Linked DNA regions of Homo sapiens: region 2 is linked to region 1. The links come from fine-mapping of genetic effects on gene expression. A gene starts in region 1. The other region holds a variant in brackets. All regions are shown on one strand. Distances are between the middles of the regions. Region 1 holds the start of LRP1 (LDL receptor related protein 1). Region 2 overlaps LRP1 (LDL receptor related protein 1).

The links.
Region 2: its variant is fine-mapped to the expression of LRP1 in whole blood (INTERVAL, PIP above 0.99).

The regions. Positions count from the first base shown.
Region 1 is chr12:57,127,145-57,130,042 of GRCh38, forward strand. LRP1 (LDL receptor related protein 1) reads left to right here and starts at 1,339. Exons shown (of 89, transcript NM_002332.3): 1 at 1,339-1,887. The coding sequence starts at 1,821. RefSeq lists an enhancer at 346-999.
Region 2 is chr12:57,149,339-57,152,236 of GRCh38, forward strand. All of the region lies in intron 6 of LRP1 (LDL receptor related protein 1), which reads left to right. Among named protein-coding and RNA genes, the nearest start is that of LRP1-AS, 3.2 kb to the left of the region's middle. RefSeq lists an enhancer at 1-608. The variant A/G (reference allele first, on the strand shown) is at 1,810.

The sequences.
Region 1 (2,898 bases):
CTAAAGGTTGAGCTCACTGTCATTAGGAGGCAAGTCCTTCGTGCTGCTCCTGTTTCTGCCAAGGACAGACTGGAGTGGGGACTTTTCCGTAACTAGAACGTAAAAGGGGGAACAGTCCCTCCTCTCCAGCGTCAATTTTTGGCAGCCGACGTCGTCTGCCCCGCTCCTTGAACTCTGACATGCAGACACCTAGAAAGTCAGACACTAAGGTAACAGCCATAAAACGCCGCCCAGAAGGGGGCAGTGACCAAAAGCACGTTCACTGGCCCCTGGGAACCGCCTGGCGCCTGCCTTCTGCAAAGTATCATTCCCGTGTGGGCTGAGCCTGGGGACAAAGGTCCGGCGCTCAGCAGACACCTCCTTGGAACCCGAGGCCTGGAAACGAAGGTCCAGAGTCCCTCATCTTATTCCAAATCCTGGCGCTCGGAATCTAAAACCCTAACTTGATGGCAAGCCAGTCAGAAGGTATTAAAAAAAAAAAAAAAAAAAAAAACAGAAAAATAAATGAGCCCCGACTTCTTGGGCGAAAGGGGGTGGCCTTTCCTCAACCCCACCCGCTGGTGACTCACCTCCCTCCAAACCAGGGCCTGCCCCTCCCGCGCCTAGGGCTGGGCGAGCAGGGCGGGCGGGTACTAAGGTGGGCTCCATCCCCGAGCCCCACGCGGGCGGACAAGCTCCGGCGTGTCCCCTCGGGTGTCCCTGTTTACTCCGAGCCCGGGAGCGAGGTGGGGGCGGGTCCTCGCGGTCCCTCCCCAACCCCGCCCCCTCCTTCGCAGGCCCCAATCCCAGTCCGGTCTTCCAAAGTCTCCAAATCAAAGCTCAGCCTTTCCCTGCACCTTCCCCGCGGACTGGCGGTCCCTGTCCCCACCCCGGGCAGAGGAGGCACCTTCAGGGTTCCCCTAGAAAATCGAGCCTCGGCCCAGACCACTGAGTCCCGGACGCCCCCGGAGGGAGCCTGAAATCCTAGAGTATGACACTGAGTTTCAAAGGGGAGCCGCTCAGCTCTCCGCCCACTGCCCAATCCCACCCTCGACCCCTTCTGCTCTCTGGAGCACCAGGGAGGAGGGCCCAGCCAGGGGAGAGGGCGCCCCAGGCCCCAAACTAGCCAGCGAGTCCCCGGGACCCTCACTCTTGGACCGCTTTCCAGAACTCCGAACCCTGTCGCGGGTCCGCGTCGCCCTCCCCCGGGCAGCGCGTCAAATCGGCGCATGCGCACTCACTGGATTGCCGCGTAGCTCTTTCTCCCCCCACCCACCAACCTTTTTTCTTTCCCCGCCCCTTCCCTCCCTCCCTCCTCAACCCGTCCCCTCCCTCTCCCCCATCAGCCCCCCCCTCGGCACTTCAGTCCGGGGAACAGCGGTGCGAGCTCCAGGCCCATGCACTGAGGAGGCGGAAACAAGGGGAGCCCCCAGAGCTCCATCAAGCCCCCTCCAAAGGCTCCCCTACCCGGTCCACGCCCCCCACCCCCCCTCCCCGCCTCCTCCCAATTGTGCATTTTTGCAGCCGGAGGCGGCTCCGAGATGGGGCTGTGAGCTTCGCCCGGGGAGGGGGAAAGAGCAGCGAGGAGTGAAGCGGGGGGGTGGGGTGAAGGGTTTGGATTTCGGGGCAGGGGGCGCACCCCCGTCAGCAGGCCCTCCCCAAGGGGCTCGGAACTCTACCTCTTCACCCACGCCCCTGGTGCGCTTTGCCGAAGGAAAGAATAAGAACAGAGAAGGAGGAGGGGGAAAGGAGGAAAAGGGGGACCCCCCAACTGGGGGGGGTGAAGGAGAGAAGTAGCAGGACCAGAGGGGAAGGGGCTGCTGCTTGCATCAGCCCACACCATGCTGACCCCGCCGTTGCTCCTGCTGCTGCCCCTGCTCTCAGCTCTGGTCGCGGCGGCTATCGACGGTGAGTGAGATTCCGCGTCCCCCTTGGACCCCTGGGGGCACCCTCTCCCCAGCCCCCACTCCTGCATACGGATGGGGAAGGGAGACGCGGGAGGGGGTGCCTTTTGTTATCCCAGTCCAGCTGACACAGCAGCGGCCCGACTGGGGGCGGGGATGGGGTCCGATTTGGGGGATGGGGGCCCTGGGCAAATGATGCTTCCGGGGCCCCCCAGCACAAACAAAGACCAGAGGCCTGGGTAGAGAGAAGAGGGCTCCCCATTTTTCTGATCCTGGGGAGGAGAGGCCTTCTTTTCCTATCTCTGTTCGGGGAGGGCCTCCGCCTCCCCTACATCCTCACAACCCCCCACCCCCCATCTGAATTGTGAAGGAATCCGGATTTGCAATGTTCGGCTGCAAAAGGGGGTGGGGGTGGGGGGGGTGGCTTTTGCACTGGCCTCTGTAGCTCGAAAGGGGAGCCAGGCCAGGGGTACCCTGCCGGGCAGAGGGCAGGCAGGCCCGGGAAGGCTGTGGGTGGGGAGAGGGAGGGCCCCCTGCTTGGGCGTGGAATCGACCCCAGAGCCCCGGCTGGAGGCCTGGGTGCTGAAGTAGGCTCTTCCCCCTCTCAGGGCCTCTGTCAGTAGCCTGGGGTAGGGCTGTGTTGGGGGGCAGAGAGGGGGAGCTCGCCATACTATGTGACTTTGAATTTTCCTTCTTAATTCCTGGGAGCTTTGAGATGAAAAAACGTCAGATGTCATCACTGGGGAAGGGGACTGGAGAATGGCCTGGAATGCTGGGGTAGGAGGGTGGGGGAGGCTGCCTTCTTCCTGACTTCTGGCTTCATCACAGTTTGGATTGGAAGGAGAGTTGGAGGTTGGATGGGGATTATGGCTGTGCCCCCACACTCCTTTAGTAAATCTGTTTATTCCCTGCACCCCTCCAAGCCCAAAACCCCATACACACACACTTTGTATATTGCAGAGTTAGGCTTAGGCTAGAACTGCATCCTTTTGGGGAAATGGGGTGCCTCTCTTCC
Region 2 (2,898 bases), 22 kb after region 1:
AACAGCTCACTCTTGCTCCTCCTCTCTCCTGGCCCGGGCCAGCCCTGTGTCTCCCGGCCCAGATCCAGCCCTGTCCTCTCCTCCCCCGCTGTCTCCTTGAAATTGCCTCTCCACCCAGACTGCTCCCAGCACTCCCCTTGCTGTTTTCAAGCCAAAGGAAGTAACTTAAGCAAGAGAGATGTGTTTTAGAGCCCGGCAAGGATTTCTCAATAGAGGGAAGACCCTAAGATGGGCTGAGTGGAATCCAGGCATCATCCCTGGGATCTAGGTCGAAATGCCTCTTGGGGACCTAAGCCAGGCAGGGGAAGGTAGCAGGACATAACCACAGGCTGGAATCACAGGCAGGAGCAGGAAGAGAGCCCAGGAGAACGAGGTGACACAACACGGCTAAGCTCCAGACTGGCTGGTGGAAGGAAGAGCTGAAGTCGGGACCCAGCAGGAAACAAGGAGCATGAGGCCACATCGTTTAGCAGAGCTTCTGCCAGGCTCGCCAGGAGGTCTCCTTCCCACCTTCGAAGTCCTCAGACTCTCCGCCATCTCTCCCAGGCCCAGGCGAGATCCCTGAGTAGGATTACTAGACAGACTGTCCTCTCCCACTGTCTTGGAGTGTCCCAAGGCCAGAGAGGCAGGATCCTGGCAGTAGAAGAGAGGGGGAAAATGATGTCCCAGCTCTAGAACAACAGACTCAGTCTTCAATAAATATTTGTTCAATGGATCAATACATGTGTGTCAGACGCCTGAGACAAAGACAAAAGGCAGCGCTCTCCTTACAGTATTTGCAGTCAGGTGAAGAGGCCATGATCAAAGAAGCTCCAGAGGCCTATGGAGCCTGTAACAGGAAAACTTCCTTCTTTTTTTTTTTTTTTTTTTTGAGATGGAGTCTCACTCTGTCGCCCAGGCTGGAGTGCAGTGATGCAATCTTGGCTCACTGCAAGCTCTGCCTCCCGGGTTCACGCCATTCTTCTGCCTCAGGCTCCCGAGTAGCTAGGACTACAGGTGCCCGCCACCACGCCTGGCTAATTTTTTGTGTTTTTAGTAGAGACAGAGTTTTACCATGTTAGCCAGGATGGTCTCGATCTCCTGGCCTCATGATCCACCTGCTTCAGCCTCCCAGAGTGCTGGGATTACAGGCGTGAGCCACTGAGCCTGGCCTTGAAAACTTCCTTCTAATAGGGCAAGCTTCCTTCTGGGAGCCTGAGCCGAGTCTTGACGAGTAGTAGGTGTTAGCCCCAAATGGCCCACCTGGAGGGCCCACCTAGAGTCAGGAGGCCACAGGGCTCTGGCTGGAGGCACAGAGGGCGACTTGGTGGAAAAGGTGGGAAAGGATGGGTTCAGGGAGGGGAGGACATGGTGGGAACCGCAGCCCCCATGTGGGGAGTGTTTATCATGCACCAGGCCTCATGCTAAGTGCAGTTAGTGTACCATCCAGTTTTACAAATGAGGAAACAGAGACTCAGAGGCATTAAGTAACTTGCTCATAGCCTCAGTTGGAAGGTGACAGAACCAGAATTCAAACTCAGGCTGTCAGTGTCTAGGGCCCAGTTGGACCCAGGGCAGAGCAGAATGATATGAGGAGAGGTGGGGAGGTTCCTGGAACAAGGGCCAGAATCTAGTGTGCTCCCTGGGGATGTGGATAGAGGTCCAGGGACCTCTTTGGATGTGTATACACTCTTGGGTGTGTAGATGTGTTGGGTGACATTTTCTCAGGACATAAAGGCTTCTTCCTTCCTTCCGATTTCCTTATTTTAGAGCAGGTGACTAGAATCCTGCAGCTGAAGCTAGAGTCTTTTTGGGCATGGGGTGGGTCCC[A/G]TGTGTTTGGGAAAGCAGCCACCATGTATGGAAATGCCTCTTGAACAATGGGAATGATGGAGAAGTTGAGAAAAGCTGGAGTTGTAGTGAGTGCAGATGCTGAGCAGTGGGATGGGGTGCCAGGACACCAGGTCTATTCTGGGGCCTGGAACTGAAAGTCCTCTGTGCCATAATGGGCAGCTGTGGTCTCTCGTCTGACTCCTGCACCTCTTCCCTGCTTCCTAGCCTCCCTCTTCATGCTGGAATCCCCTGCCCCTCTGCCCCTAGACCACCCCCAACTCCTTCCACAACACAGCCTCCCTCTCTCCCCTTTGGTTTATTTGAGATTCTCCTGTCCTCAGGATTTTCGGCCTTTGGCCAGAGCCTCTTCAGAAGGTGCGCTCAGGTGGTTGGCCCTTAGAAGGCTGGGCGACAAGGGGACGGCTCCCCTCAGGGTTGGTGGAGCCAGAATGCTCAGGATCTCTGGGCTGAAGCCCAGGACTCCACCTGGACCCCAATTCATAAGACAGAGAGGGGTGGCCCAGATACTGCCTATAGGGCAGCCCTGGAGGCAAGGTTCCTCCTCTCCCTTTGAGCCCATCTCTCTACACTGGCCTTGGAGTGGTGGCCAAGTGTATGTGTGTGTGTGTGATTGTGCGTGCATTTGTGTGTGCATACGTGCGTATGTGCGTGTGTGTGTGGTGGGGCAGGCAGAGGAATCTGAACTTTAGGAGAGAGAAAAATAATGTGGTGCAGGGGGTTGGATAACAAAGGATTTTTGCTTGCAACTAATAGTCTCCAGCTGCAAAAATACCAAAGGGGAGGCCAGGCAGGCCGAGGACTCCAGTTCTTGCCAACTCCTCACCGGCCTGCTGAGTGGGGCCCTGCCTGGCCTTTGGGGAGGTGGAAGGGAGACCGGCCAAGGGTAAATATCTGAGAGCAGGGATGATCTCTCTGCCTTCCTTCCCGGAATTGGGAGGGAATCCAGGCCACATCCTGAGGCTGGGGGGGCTGATTGTGGAGCTGCACCTGGGATAGCGGCATCAGATCTCTGCAGGTTTCTTCCTTCTCTCTCTTGCCAAGAGAAGGGTGGATAGGGGGAGCAGGGGC